Regions from separate parts of the Homo sapiens genome. Here region 1 is linked to region 2. The links come from fine-mapping of genetic effects on gene expression. Tissue or cell type: B cells. Region 2 holds a variant in brackets; the other region holds the start of a gene. All regions are shown on one strand. Distances are from middle to middle.

Region 1 (7,653 bases), 81 kb after region 2:
GTGCCAGAGTCACCACACGGTTTGGAGTCAGTCACTGCTGCTCTTCGCCTCAGTGTTTCCATCTGGGAAACGGGGAAACCAGAGTCTTGGTCAGCCGGGGTGGGGTTAGAGGGGATGGTACCTGGCAGTGTGCAGCAGACTGGCACCTCGGAGGCAGCTTGGAAAGCTCAGGTTCCTCCTCTCCGGACTCTCAGAACTGTTCCTGCCCTTCTTTGAGCATCTGTGACCCCTTGCGGCTGGCGCTGGGATTCGGTGGGGCTCTTTGGTGGCCCCTGGAGGGAACCCACTGTCTCTTGCCTGGAGCTGCACTGAAATCCTGGCTCTTCATTACAAACCAGCTCCTGTCCCCTTAAGCCTCACTCACCTGAACTCTTTGGCTCACGCCACCATTCAGCTCCCCAGAGTTCTGGAAGTAAGACCCCAGCTGATGACGGAGGCAGCGGCTGGCCTTCGGAGGACCTCACCTTTCTCTTCCCCTGCACTGCTTTGGGTTTGGGGTGTGCAGGGCCAGCCAGCTGACTGCTACCAGGGCAGACGCTGTCAGTGGTGACTGCCCTGCAGGCCTGCAAACATTTTGCCAGAGGGCCAGACCCAGGAGCAGAGGGGTCCTCTTCTCTTCCTCCTCCTCCCCTCCTGTCCTCTCCTCTCCCCTCCCTCCTATCCTTTCTCTTCCTCTCCACTCAGCAGAACAGACTGGAGCCCAGGTGTGGACAAGTGGCTTGAGTGTTTCCCTCTAGACTGATGGAGAGACAAGCTATGACTGAGAAAGGGGGTTCGGGCTGGGACCCCTGGGCCTAGTCCCAGTTCCATGTGGACCTGCCGGGTGGCCCCTTGCCTCTCTGAGCTTTCGGCTCTACTTCCCAGCTCGAGTCATCATCGGTCACCACAGACAAAAGGTGTTGTCCCCAAAGGAGCCACAACGGATGTGAGAGAGAGTCCCCTTAGGCTGAGGTGCTTGGGGACAGATCGGGCCACCTTGCCCAGCAGTACCCAAGCCCTTGGCCTCCCTTGTTGGAGGCTGAGCTCCCCAAACCCCTGTGAGGTCCTGCTAGTGACCAGCTCAGGACCACAGGGAACCTCTGGAAGCAGCTTAGAGCCCCGTTGGTGTCCTGGGAACTTCTGGGAGCAGTCCACCCAGACGCCAGCTTCCTCATGCTCAGCCAGCACAGAGACCAGCCTTTAAAAATATTATTCAACAAGCAATTCCCGGGACTGTTTACAAGACTGAGCCGAGACAGGCATATGAAATAGGCCAAAGTACCTTAAAAAGCGTCCCTCAGGGAAATTAAAAAAAAAAAGACCCAAACAAAAAAACAAAAAAACAAAACCTTCTTAGATCGCAGGTTGTGAATAAATGGATACTACTATAAAAATAGTTTTGGCTGTAGCAGCACATGGTGGGAAGGCTGGGGTGTTTTTTTCCATGGCTGGCTCAGACCTGGCCATTTCATATGGGGCAGCCACTATCCCGGGAGGTTTCGTGTAGAATCATTTGCACCAAAAAGCTCCAAACTGAGGGGGAGGATAAAAAGTAGTGGCCACAGAAATAACAAGCGGCATCGTCATTTTCCATCAAGGACCTGGTGTGTTTTCGGCGGCCGAGCACCCAGGCCCCTGCCCCATGGAAGAGAAGGGCGGGGCTGAGAGCCATTCACCGTCTGTGGGCACAGAGGCTGGATGTGAGCCCAGATCTGCAGGACTCCGGACTCCGTGCGCTCTCCACGTGGTCTCTAGAGCAGGGGATGACGCCTTCCGGTGTTTCTTAGGAACAGAGGGCCCTTCTGGAACCTTCAGCCTTCCCAGGAGGAACCCACATGGAAATCTGTCTGCATGTGCCTCCCCGACTCCAGGCACCAACAGCTCCTGAGTCTTGAGTTTTCAGGGACAAGGAGTGAGATGGGGGTGGGGTGGAGAGTCCAGCATGCCACACCGCCCACTATTGGGAGGTGACCTCAGACACTTCAGCCCAGCCTTCCCACCATTGCCTGGCGTGTCCTGACCTGCCGTCCGCGGCCTGCTGCTCCTTCTCTCTGCAGGCCGCTGCTCAGCCGGCCCTGCTGCCTGGGCGGCCACTGCCTGATGGAACCTCCCTGCTCCAAAACCTGACTCAAGAACCAGTGATCCCAAAAGCTGCCTGAGCCCTTTGGCTGGATAGAGCCTTGCTCTCCCTGCACTGAGCATAGGCGAACGGCCTGCCTAATTCAGCGTCATTTCATCATCATCATCATCACAATAACTGTCACACCGAGCTCGTCCTCCCGAGCGCAGACTCTCCATATTATCTCACTTAGTCATCTCAGTGACTCAGTGAGGAGGGAGTGGTTGTTCCCACTTTACAGATGAGAAAACTGAGATACAAGGAGGGAAGTGACCCAGCTAGGCCACACGGTTGGTAGGAGGTGGACCTGCAATCTGGCCCAGGCCTTGTCTATCTGGGACTCCCCCCCAACCCCCCAACCTGAGTACAGTCAGGAGGGGCCCAAGCAGTCACAGAGACAGGCCTGGAACGCGGCGGGCACATGGCACTTTTGCAGTGTATGTTGGTGCTTACGGGGGCTCTTTCTCAGTCCTATCCTTTGTTTGCCGCCCCCCTCCCTGGCAGGAGGAACTCAGTTTTAGAAGGGCAGTGGGTTGGGCCGGCATGCCATGTGCAGTGGGGAAGTGGGTCTGTTGTGGCTGTAACCACAGTGGGTGAGGACCAGGTGTCAACAGTGGCCCTCATCCCGGAGGGAGTGGGGCAGGCTGCCTGTTGGACAGGGTGTGTGAATAGGGGGACGGGGTGGCCTTTGGTAGGGGCCCAGGGGTCAGTGAAGAGGGGGAGGGGGAGAGGGCTGCCTTGGGCTCTGGCTGTGCTGGGGGTGGGCTGCCCAACCAGGGCACTTCTGTCCCAAGTGGAACCAAGACCTCCCACCGGAACAGGCCACCGGAGCCCTCGTGGAACCCAGCTCCGGGTGGCCCGACTTGAGGGGCACCCAGGCAGCAGGACACCTCTCTGGTCTCGGGCTGTTATCTTTGGGCCGTGTCATGGCTGTCCACACGCGGTCATCACCTCCTCACCTCCCTCCCCATTAGCGTCCCCTGACCCGGGCCACCACGCGCAGCCTGCGTGAATGGTCAGTCCCTGTGCCTCGCAGCCCGGGCCCTTAGGTCTAGGTGGTCAGCAAGCTCGCGGTGGGGGTGCGGAGGGAGGGCGCGGCGGGGCGCCTCGGCGCCTGCTCAGGAAGGCTGGGCTTGGCGGCGCGCAGGTAGCTCACACCCAAATCCGAATTCCAGCCGCCCGAGACGGCGGGCGGCGGGCGGCGCGCGGCGGAGGCGGCCCGAGCTGTCCCGGGGCAGGAGTGCTTCCTTTCGTTTTCAAACAAATCGTGAATTTAAAAGTCAGGCAGAGAACTACCCAGGGTATAAAAATAGCCACCGGCCACAAAGTCTGTGTCCAACTCCGGGCAGCGCCTGCCCAGCCTGGTGCCTTTGAAGAGGGGTCCCAGGAGTGCGGGTCGATGAGGAGGCGAAGCGCGCACCCCTCCTCGTTCCCGGTGGGCTCGTGGGTCTCTCCGTGGGGGTAGGGCGTGAAAGTGTGGGGTGGACCGGGGGTAGCGTCCGGAAGACGAAACCTTCCCCGGACGAGGAGCTTGTCCTCTGCCGTTGGGGCACATCGCCACTCCCGGGCCTCAGTTTCCCCACGTGTCCGCCGCGGCGGGGTGCGAGGTATGGGTGCCGCGGCCATCCCGCCCGGCTCTGCGCTTGCCTGGCCCGGGCCGGGGTCCCCTCGCGGCCACCGCCCGGCCGCTTTGTGTGGCCGCGCAGACAATGGCCCGGCCGCTGGGCTCCCGGCCCGGCTCTCCGCCTCCTCCGGGCCCTTGCGCGCAAGTGTGTGTGTGCGCGAGTGTGTGGCGGGCCCGGGGAGGGAGTTCTGCTCCCGCCCCCGCCCCCGCCCCGCTCCCTCTGCGCCCCGCCCCCTCCCACGCCGCCTCCTCGCGGCTCCCGGGAACCCCTGGCGGAGGCGAACTCGCAAGTTTGCACGGCGCTCTCAACTCGGCGGCCGGGCGGGCGGCGATCGCGGGGCGGCGGCGGCGGAGGGGGGCGCGCTCCGGGCGGGGCTGGGCGGGCGGGGCGCGGGCCGAGCGGTGGCGGCGGCGCTGCGCCGAGTCAGCGCCCGTCGCGGGCCCCCCGCCACCCCCCCGCCGGCGCCGCAGCGCCGCGGTCGGAGCGGGGCGCGGGCGCGCGGCGGCGGGGGCGCGGGCCGGGCGCGCGCGGCGGCGGCGCGCAGACACAAGTAGTTTACATTGTTGGGCGACTTTTGCAACAACTCGCCGCGCCGCGGCCTCCGCGCGCCGCCGCCGCCACCGCAGCCGCCGGCTCCCCGCCGCCCGGGCCCGGGCCGGCCGCGCCGGGGGCCGCCGCGCCCGCCGCCCGCTGCCTGCGCCGCCGGCCGGGCATGAGTTAGTCGCAGACATGGACACCAAACATTTCCTGCCGCTCGGTGAGTGCTCGCCGGGCCGGGCGGGGACGGGGCCGGGGGCCGGGGGCCGGCGGGCGGGAGGGGGCCGGGGGCGCGTTGGCGGCGCGCGCGGGGGGTCGCCGGCCCGGGCCCCGCTCGGACCCCTCGCCGACCTTCGCGTGAGTTCGGGCGCCGGGCCCGGGGAGGGTCGACCCGGGGCAACTTTTCGCGGGGCCGGGGCGGGGCTGGGCAGCGGGCGGGCGGCGGGGCCGGGGGGCGGGTGGCAGGTTCGCCCGGGACGAGGAGGGGTCTCCCGCTCACCGGCGGCCGCCTGCGCCCCGGCGCCCAGCTGCAGCCGCGCCGCACAGGAACCCGGCCGGAGCGGGAGGAGCAACTTCTGCGCTCCGCGGCTCCGGCCTCCCTGGCCTGGGGACCGGGACGGCGCGCTGGGCCCCGAGCGGCCTCTGCGCCGCCCGCCCGTCGGGCTGCGGCTTCTAGCAGGCCGCTGGCCCTTGGGTGTGTGTCCGCCCAGGAAACAGACTGGGACCCTGTTATCCCCAAAGCAGCCCACGCCCGGGTGGGCAGGGTCCCCCGGGGCTGTATGAACAGAACGTCAGACCTGGGAAGGCCCCATTCCAGAAATGGGGCCCCTCACTCTGGCACCCCCGGGTGTTCTCCCAGGCTGGCTCTCCATTTGTGAGCAGGACAGCGCAGAGGCGCGTAGGGTCAGTTTCCCTCCTCCTCCTGCCATCCCGCCCGGTAGCTTCCTATCCCAGACTGCCCGCCAACTCCAGGCCCAGACCTACCGAGAAGGGGGAGAGGGCATGGCTGGGGCCCCCACCCATTGCCCTCCCAAGGGTTTGGAAGCTAGTGAGAAGGGGGAGACTTTATAAATTAGCTCCGGGAAGGATATTAATTTGGTGGTGGGACGGCAGCCAGGCTGTCAGGCCGGGTGAAGGATTTGTGCTGAATGGAAATCGAAACAGCTGATTATGAATGAAGCCCCCGCCATCCGTAGCCCCTCCTGCCCACCCTCCCTGCAGCCTGGGGTGCAGCTTGGCCACCCCAGGAGGTGCTCAGAAGCCAATGTAGCTGCAGGGATGTTTAGTGAGATGGGGCATCAAGGGGAGCCAGCATGGACCTAGCCCCTCCTGGATGTGAGGGTGAGAGTCTGAGTACCTCTGCTACTCACAGGCAGGTGTGCTGCCCCGTGACCGGGGCAGGCGGTGGGTTCCAGGTTTGTCAGACCTAACGCTTACTCCCTGCCTCTGTCATGATGGAGTGGTGGGCTCGAGGCCTTGAATGAGCTCCAGGGCTCAGCCTCCAGGGGTGGGCGCTCATGCCCATTTTGCAGATGAGAAAACTGGCTGGGAGAGGCTGAGCCCCCAGGATACAAGGTGGTGGATTTGGGATTAGCACCCCCAGCTCGTGGTACTGCTGAGTGTGAGGCAGGAGGGAATGCTGCGCTGTCTGTGACCGAGTGCAGTGTGGAGTGGGCTGGGGCTGCCTTTCCCTGTTAAAGCTTTGCACTCACACATGTGCACACACACATCCACACACACAGAGCTAGGCTCTCCCAGACGATTCCTCTGGAACAAGAATGCTCAGCTCAGTGTCTGGCCCCTGGACGTGGCAGGGGCCTGGCTGGTTGCACTTCAGCTGAGTACTGAGAACCGAACAGGTCCCTGTTTCTAATGCTCCGGGTGGGACAGGGATAGTCCACGGAGTTGGTGGATGTAGGGCGAGGGAGCAAGGGGTGCCCAGTCGCCATGGTGGCTTGCTGGAGTCCCTGTGAGGAGGAGAGGTCGTGCCTCCGAGCCACTGCCCCAGGGATCTCCCTGGGCACTCCCCTGCCACAAGGAAGCTAGGAGTCTTCTGTTCTCGAGCAGCAGCTCTCCCGACCGGCCCATGGCCTCCCAGGCAGCCCACGCCCCAGGGCTGAGCAGAGAGCCCTGGGCTCTGATTACATTTTATTTTTTTTCTAAGCTTGTGACCAGCTCTGAAGTCCAGAGCAGTCGAAGGTCCATTTAAGCGGCTACTTTTCTAAGCCCTTTTGTCAACACAGCCTAATCCCTCCTCGGGGTGAGTGGTGGTGGAGGGCCTGGCTTGTCTTGGCCCGGCTGGCCGACCGGTCAGACCTGGAGCTGCTGGGGAGACTCGGCCACCCCTTACAGCTGCCCAGCCGCTTTTGGGGTCTGGGGTAGAGAGGGCTTCCTCCTCCCAGCATTCACTACCGCTGGGCTTGGTGGGCAGGGAGAGGATCCCAGTCGGTGTCCACCGAGCCGCTCAGTGAGGGCAGGGATGAGTGCAGCGTCCAGATCTGGAAGGAAAGCAAGGCCGAGGGACTCGCCAGAGGCAGCCCCAGCTTCCTGGCCCTGCTGCCCGGGGCTGGCCGCGCTCCCACGCCTGCCGGGGAGAAGGCCCCCGCTGGCCTTATCCTGAATGGTGGGACTCAGGCGGAGTCCACAGAGTCCAAAGGTCTCAGACCACACCAGACCCCATGCGCCTGTGGAGAGACCCGGTGGCAAAGCTGTAGGCCCGCTGACCACTCTTGGAGTTGGGGCACTTGGGGGCCTGGGTGAGCTTGCAGCCTGTGTGAGGGGCTTCTGGTAACATCAGAGCCCTTGGGACCCAAAATAGAGCACATTCCGGGGCCTCCCGAAATAACAGGGTCATGTGACTCTCAGGAGGCTGGGCTTGGAGTCCCGCTCGGGCCTGACGAGGGCGTCTTTTAGCGCGGGCGCTGCCCGACGGCAGGGTGTTTGTTTTGGTAAACTCTGGAGGGGCCCTGTTTGTTGACTGGGGAGGTGTCAGGGAGAGAAAAATGGCCCAGTCCGATGGTGGCCCTGGCTTGCTAGCCTCCAACCTTGCCTAGGGCTGGCTGCTGGGCCTGGACCCGAGCATGCAGCTGTGACCCTCTGCCCAGATGTGGATGGGACGAGCTGGGCCCCTAGGAAGGGCTGGTGGGGGGCGGGTGCTCTGAGTCCCTTGGGGTGTGGGGTGCAGGTTGAGCCGGCAGCCCTGGTCACGCGGGCAGCTGCTGTGACTGGCTCCCGGCTCTGCCAGCACCTGGTGGTTCTTCCAGCTGTGCCTGTCCTTCAGGGCCTGTGGGGGGCTCACCTCCACCAGGAGGCCCCTCTGACTGCCCTCTCTTGGCCCCTGCCCCATCTCCCCCGTGGCTGTGTGGGAGGTCGCTGTCAGTGGTCTTTGTTTCC
Region 2 (7,653 bases):
AGAGCGAGACTCTGTCTCAAAAAAAATAAAAACCAAGACGAGGAAAGTCTGGGAAACCGTCACAGCCAGGAGGAGCCCAAGGGGAGGAGATATCATATGGTGTCCGGGATGGGGTCCTGGACAGAAAAGGGACACTAGGTAATGAAGGAAATCTGGCTAAAGTGGATTTTGGTCACGAGCAGGTGGATGGCTGTGACAGGCCCACGCCAATGCGGATGAGGATGAGGGGTGGCAGGGCGAGGGGATATGAGTGCTTTCTGGGCTGTCTTCTCTGTTTTGCTGTAAATCTCAAACCATTCTGAAAACATACAATTTGTCAACCAAAAAGGGGTTCCAGGGCAAGCACGGGGGAACGCTGCCCTGCTGTGAAGTCACTGGGCAACCCTGGGTGGGAATATTGGTGTTCAAGGCACTTGGCAATCACCTGGTTATCAGCCACGGCTCAGGCTCCAGAGCTCACGTCAGGTGGCTCCTTAGGGAGTTTAATACACAGAGGGTCCAAAAAGAGGTGTATGGAGGGTGAGATTCGCACCCCTTGGGGGCCCCGTGGAAGAAGGGGCCACCTGTAGGAAGTGAACTACAGAGGCCGCCCCTGCCAGAGCTGGTGCCTGAAGCAGAGATGTGGGCAGATACCTGGGCCTCCCACCCTCCCACCCTCCCAGTCCCGGCCAGAGCCTCTCAGGGTCAGAACACAACAAGAACCTGGAAATGAACTTTGCTGGGCCAGTGCCCCACGCTACTGAGCAGAGCAGGGAAAGTGCAGAGGGATCTGGGGTTCAGCAGACAGAGCCCTGCCGCCCCCAGCGATCAAGGTCCTTGCAGAAAAGAGGCAGAATCAGGGCTCAGAGAGAGAAAGGACAAATCAAGCTCACACAGCCAGGGAGAACTGCGATTGGAATCCGGGGCTCCCGCCTCCTCTAGCCTAAAGATGCTGACTACTTTCTTGGTCACAGACCACGGTGGGGATATGATGCAAGCCGCAGGCCCTCTTCCTGGAAAAATGCGTGCAGGTAAATACTTAGTGCACAATCTCAAGAGATTCAAAGACTCCTTGCAGCCCAGTCTAGGACCCCAGGCGAAGGTCTCTTCAGTGGCTCTTGAGTCAGTTCTGCCCAGAGATCAGAGCCACTAGAGTTCTGCCTAGAGTCAGGCGAGACTAGAGAACTGGGGTCCCGTGGGCCCCGCCTGCACCCCTTTGGAGGAAGGCAGCCAGGCCGAAGCAATCGGGTTCATAGTGGGGTCTTGGGAAGGGCCTGGCTCTGTGCTTTCTCACACGTTGAGCGCTGACGGCACACGCCTGTCTGATGATGGCTGGTCCAGGCTGCAGCATCTCTGTGGCTCACGGCTCCGTGCTGCCCCTTCTGCGCCTTCCTCGCCGTGGTGGCTGTCGGGTCCCTTACGTTTCAGGGACCATCCTGAAAATAAACAGCATGGGAGAAATCTTCCTGCAGGGAGCCAGGAGGACGCAGCGGCTCAGGGATTCAGGCATGCCAGAGCTCAAATCCCGAGTGTCACTTCCCAACGGGGCCTCCTAGACCCTCCCCCTGGACTTGCTGTGAGGGAGACAGGAGAGCTGTGTAAAGCCCAGCAGGCGCTGGCTGATGCGTGGACCATGGCGACCATTGCTGCAATTTTTTTATAATCAGAAATATAGGCTGGGCGCGGTGGCTCATGCCTGTAATCCTAGCACTTTGGGAGGCTGAGGCGGGCAGATCACTTGAGGCCAGGAGTTTGAGACCAGCCTGGCCAACATGGCGAAAACCCATCTCTACTAAAAATACAAAAAAAAATCCAGGCATGGTGGCGGCGTGTGCCTGTTATCCCAGCTACTCAGGAAGCTGAGGCAGGAGAATCACTGGAACTCGGGAGGCGGAGGTTGCAGTGAGCCAAGATCATGCCACTGCACTCCAGCCTGGGTGACAGAGCAAGAGTCTGTCTCAAAAAAAAAAAAAAAAAGAAATAAAGAAGTTGGATGAGCGTCACCTCCACACTCCAATCTTGCGTGTTGACATCTTACCTTTGGGATGCCTTTACAAATAAAATACTTGGTAAAAGTGTCTTGTATTTGGACTCTGTAGTGCTGAACATAGTGTGCGTATGTGTGTGTGTGTGTGTGTGTGTGTATATATATATATATAAAATGCCAATATAGTTAATTAAAATACCACTTAATGACTATTGCTTCTGGCTGTTATGAAGTAGCCAGCATAGATCACTACGTAGACAAGCTGGGTAAAATACGAATGCTCTTTTTGAAGACACTGGTGAGCAGCTGAGCCAATCGGGACTCAAAGGGCTGAGATCTCAGCAAAAGGGGAACCGCGGAGAGATGAGCCAACGCTGTTGCTCGCTTTTCATTCAGGGGATTTCCCAACTCCTGCTGCAAGACAAGAGACCATAAACACCCGTGAAGAGGAAGGGAAGCCAGCGGAGTTTCACAGGGCTGACACTGGAGTTTGGACCTGTCAAGGTAGCCAAAAATTGAGTGGCGATCTGAAGATCCTGGGGAGAAAGGTGGTGAAAATAAGTGAGTTTGATGCTCAGAGGTTTCCCTTCTAGCTGTTTGGTGGATGAACGTGTGCAGAGCAAGAAGCTAAGAAGCCCAGAAGAAAGCTACTGAGGTGTCAGAATTTCTAGAGTGTCAGGTAGCCCAGAATGAGAGCTTAGGACTTGCCAAGGAGGAGAAGCTCTAGAAGACGCTCCAGGCTCTCAGCCGGGATGCCAGGAAGCTTAATCGCTATGAAAGGGAACCAGAGGTATAGCCAAGCCTTCACAAATGTCAAGGAAAACCAAGAAACAGGACCCAGAGAAAAAAAATGATGACAGCAACAGCCCCACAGACTGCTCAGCTATTGGTAGCATCACAGATGGGCTTTCAAATTATTATTCGAGCAAATGGATGATAAAACAGAGAATTTTGCTAGACAACTGGAATCTATTACAAAATGGAAATTCTAGAAAAATGCAATGATTAAAATTAGAAACTTAATAGACAGGCTTAACAGTAGGCTAGGAAATAGAGTTTTAATAAAGTGAAATGATAAGTCAGGAAAAAAACTAGGAAGAAACAGAGTGAGTAGAAAAGGATAAGAAACAGACAGAGCATGCCATACACATGGGGTCTGGGGAGCAGCTCCATCATGCAGGTAACAGGAATTTTAGGAGGGAGAGAGAGAGAAAGAGAAAGAGAGAGGATAGGGAAAAAGCAATGTTTGAAGATAGAATGGCTGAGGATTTTCCAAAATCGATGAAAGAAAACAAACCCCAGATAGAAGCTCTCCACAGGCTAAGCAGGCTAGGTCCAGGGAGAAGCCACCTAGGCATATTATGGTAAAACTACTGTAATCCAAATACAGAAATCTTAAAAGTAGCTGGAGGTAAAGACAAATAGACAAATTACCTTCAAGGGGACAATAAGATTATTTTTCAGCAGAAATGATGGGCTCCAGAAGACAAGGGAGCAACGTGTTTACGGTGCTGGAAGAAAAGAGCTGTCACTCCAGAGTTCTAGACCCAGAGAGGAAGGACATCCTTCAGATACCAAGGAGACTCATCTCAGATCAGAGTTTTGGATGTGTCCATCTCCACCATGAGCTGGGGAAATCTAGGCGATGGAAACACAACTTGTGCCCCTCCGTGCCCCCTGGCACATGGCAGGTGCACACACACAGTGGGTGGAGACAGGAAGAGCGAGACTGGGCGTGTCCACCTGGCAGGCTGGTGAGCCATGAAGCCGAGTGTGGGGCACAGTGCCTGAAATGCTAG[T/C]TTCGAACCCCAGCTCTGCCGCTTAGTAACTGTGAGCAATGATTAATCTTATGTGTCAACCTGGCCGGGCGCGGTGGCTTGTGCTTGTAATCCCAGCACTTTGGGAGGTTGAGGTGGGTGGATCGCCTGAGGTCAGGAGTTTGAGACCAGCCTGACCAATATGGTGAAACCCCATCTTTACTGAAGATACAAAAATTAGCTGGGTGTGGTGGCGCATGCCTGTAGTCCAGCTACTCGGGAGGCTGAGGCAGAAGAATCGCTTGAACCTAGGAGGCGGATGTTGCAGTGGGCCGAGATCATGCCACCGCACTCCAGCCTGGACAACACAGTGAGACTCCATCTCAAAAAAAAAAAAAAACTTACGTGACAACCTGAATGGGTTACGGTGTGCCCAGGCATTTGGTCAAACATCATTCTGGATGAGATTAACATTTGATTGGTGGGCAGTCTGGATGAGATTAACATCTGATTGGTGGGCAGTGTGAAGCCAATTTTCCTCCCAGTGTGAGTGGGCCTCATCCAATCCTGAGAAGGAAAGAGTTGCCCTGCCTGGCTGTGGAGCTGGGACTTCGGTCTTCCCTTGCCCTTGAACTGACGCTTACACCATTGGCACTCCTGGGTCTCCACTTTGCCTGCTGCAGATGTTGAGACTTGTCAGCCTCCATGGTCACGTGCACAATTCCTTATTTTATAGATCAGTAGGAATATACATAGAAAGTGATGTGAACGTATGTCTCCTATTTGCCCTGTGTCTGCGGAGAATACTCACTAATACACTGTGTGACCCTGGGCAAGTTACTGAACCACGCTGAGCCTCAGGTTCCACATGGACAAATGGGGACAGGAGTAACACCCATCTCATCTGTCTCATAGGAGCTGATGAACAACAGCATGTAAAGTTTTTAGTTGCTCAATAAATACTAGTGATTGGCCGTGTTAAGGCCTTTAGCCCTAGATGACCACCAAAACAAAAGTGAAAGCAAAATAAACACTTTTCCAGCAAAATAAAAACCAAGATAATCAATTTCCAACAGACCTAAACTACAAGAAATACTAAAGGGGTTCTCCAGGCAGAAGAGAAATCATCCCAGATAGAGACGTGGATATGCAGGAAACAGTGACGAGCCACGGAACAGGTAAAGATCTGGGTCAAGGTAAATAAGTACCGACTTTTCAAATAATAACGATTTCTTGGCCAGGAGCAGTGGCTCACACCTGTAATCCCAACACTTTGAAAGGCCAAGGCAGTTGGGTTGCTTGAGCCTAGGAGTGAAAGACCAGCCTGGGCCACACAGGGAGACCCTGTGTCTACAAAAAATTTAAAAATTAGGCTGGGCGTGGTGGCTCACGCCTGTCATCCCAGCACTTTGGGAGGCCAAGGCAGGTGGATCACCTGAGGTCAAGAGATCGAGACTATCCTAGCCAACATGGTAAAATCCCATCTCTACTAAAAATACAAAAATTAGCTGGGTGTGGTGGCGGGCACCTGTAGTCCCAGCTACTCAGGAGGCTGAGGCAGGAGAATCGCTTGAACCCAGGAGGCGGAGGTTGCAGTGAGCCAAGATCACACCACTGCACTCCAGGCTGGGCGACAGAGCGAGACTCTGTCTCAAAAAAAAATAAAAAAATAAAAAAGAAAAAAAGAAAAAAAAAAAGAAAAAGAAGAAAAAAAGAAAGAAAGTTTGAACTAGAAAGAGTAAAAAGGTAGAAAGATGTTTTATGAAAACACTGACCAAAAGAAAGATGTCTCTATAACACCAGCTAGTATAAACTTGGAGGCAAAAAGTATTACAAAAAATAAAGATGAACTGTTTTTTGAGACAGAATCTCGCTCTGTTGCCCAGGCTGGAGTGCAGTGGCACAATCGTGGCTCATGCAACCTCCGCCTCCAGGGTTGGAGTGATTCTCCTGCCTCAGCCTCCTGAGTAACTGGGACTACAGGCGTGCACCACTATGTCTGGCTAATTTTTGTATTTTTAGTAGAGACAGGGTTTCACCATGTTGGCCAGGCTGGTCTTGAACTCCTGACCTCAGGTGATCTGCCCACCTCAGCCTCCCAAAGTGCTGGGATTACAGGCATGAGCCACCATGCCCGGCTAAGATGGACATTTCATAATAAAAGAATTATACCACCAGCAAAATGTAACAAACTTTTATGCACCTAATTATGAAGCTTCAAAATATGTAAGGAAAAATTTGGCTAAAAGGAAAAAGATGGACAAATCCATAATCACACTTTTTCTTATAACCAATAGGTCAAGCAGACCAAAAAATCACCAGAAATAAAGGAGATCCAAATACGAGGAACAAACTTGAACTAAATGACAAATATAGAACACAGTGTCCAACAACAGAATAGACATTATTTTCAAGTGCATATGAAACATCAGCCAACACTGACCAAAGCTGGGCCAGAAACAGCTAAAATAAGTTTTAAATGATTGAAATCATTCAGAATAGGTTTTCTTACTATAAGATATTTAAGCTGAAAACTCATAACCATCACAACAAAAATAAAACTGGAACATATCCAAATGTTTGGAAATTAAGTAATAACACTTCAAATGGGTCAAAGAAGAAATGACAATTAAGTTAGAAAATATTGTGAAGTATATGATAATTTTAAAAATGCAATATTAAAACTTATGGGATGTGGCTAAAGCTATGCTCACAGGCAAATTTATAGCCTTAAAACAGATGTATAAGAAAAACGGCAGAAAAATCAATCACGTAAGGCACTGTAGTGGATGCTATGATGTTCTGCCCAAATGTCCACTCTAAGACTGAAGTGCCCATGTTCCCAGCTGCTAGCCATGTTGCCAAGCTGAGCACTTCTCCAGGAATTGCCTCTCCTGAAGGGGCTACCTCCCCCAGGTTTAAGCCTGCTTCCTATAACTGGATGATATGGGAGCACAGAGTTCCTTGCTTTAACTGGGGACTCCAGAATCTAGAATGGGTCTGGCCTTGGGACCAGCCACAACGGCAGGTCCCTGAAAGAGAAATGAGGAAGTGAAGAATTGTGTCTGGTGGGTATATGCACTCAGTCCTGTGGAGAATATACCTACTTCAGGACATGAAAAGGCATGCCACAGAGGCAGAGAATGCTGTTGCCATCTAGACATCTGACAAAAGACACATCCAGATGTGCGAGAACTCCTACAGACGGATAAGCAAAAGACAACCAGTAGAAAAAGGGGCACAAGTCTGAACAGTCACTTTTAAGAATTGGATTTCCGGCCGGGCATGGTGGCGCATGACTGTAATCCCAGCTGCTCGGGAAGCTGAGGCAGGAGGATCGCTTCAACCCAGGAGGTGGAGGTTGTGGTGAACCGAGATCGCGCCATTGCACTCCGGCCTGGGCAATAGGAGCGAAACTCCGTCTAAAAAAAAAAAAAATGGAATTGGATTTCCGAGTGGCCATTAAGCATATGAAAAGTTGCTCAACCCCACTAGTTATGAGGGAAATGTAAGTAAAAGCCCTGTGGTACTGCTAGAACAAGTCAAACCGAAAACACGGACACACCCAGTGCTGGTGAGGGTGCACAGCAGCTGGATCTCACACCACTGATGGGTGTGTGGGCCACTTCAGCTCCCCCTGGAAAACAGGTGTTATCTGCAAAGCTGGACACGCTTGGACCCCAAGGCCCAGCAATCCCACCACCCAGTAGCAGGCGGCCACCATTGGAACTAGGCACAAAACCAGGAACTACGCATGTGTCCATTATCAGAATTGATACATTGTGCGTATTCACCGCTGTATACACAGCCCTGAGGGTGGACATGGTAGCTACATGCAGTGACGCCGATGACATGCGGATAGGAAGGAGCCAGGAAAGGGCATCAGAGAGGATTCCACGTGCATGGATTTTGAAACCAGCAAGTCTAACT

Which allele goes with the higher level. Alleles are on the strand shown, and positions count from the first base shown. SD is a standard deviation of normalised expression in the study named.
With allele T in place of C in region 2, the expression in B cells of the gene that starts at base 4,276 in region 1 is higher (moderate effect, 0.45 SD a copy in Fairfax 2012).

Evidence for each region. PIP is the estimated chance that this variant, and not a neighbour inherited with it, causes the effect.
Region 1: it holds the start of RXRA, and the variant in region 2 is fine-mapped to the expression of RXRA in B cells (Fairfax 2012, PIP 0.95).

Annotation. Positions count from the first base shown.
Region 1 is chr9:134,322,180-134,329,832 of GRCh38, forward strand. RXRA (retinoid X receptor alpha) reads left to right here and starts at 4,276. Exons shown (of 10, transcript NM_002957.6): 1 at 4,276-4,480. The coding sequence starts at 4,453. RefSeq lists silencers at 3,774-3,953, 4,024-4,073, 4,812-4,951 and enhancers at 5,562-6,491, 6,492-7,421.
Region 2 is chr9:134,241,634-134,249,286 of GRCh38, forward strand. No RefSeq gene overlaps it. Among named protein-coding and RNA genes, the nearest start is that of LINC02247, 50 kb to the right of the region's middle. RefSeq lists an enhancer at 2,306-2,425. The variant T/C (reference allele first, on the strand shown) is at 3,766.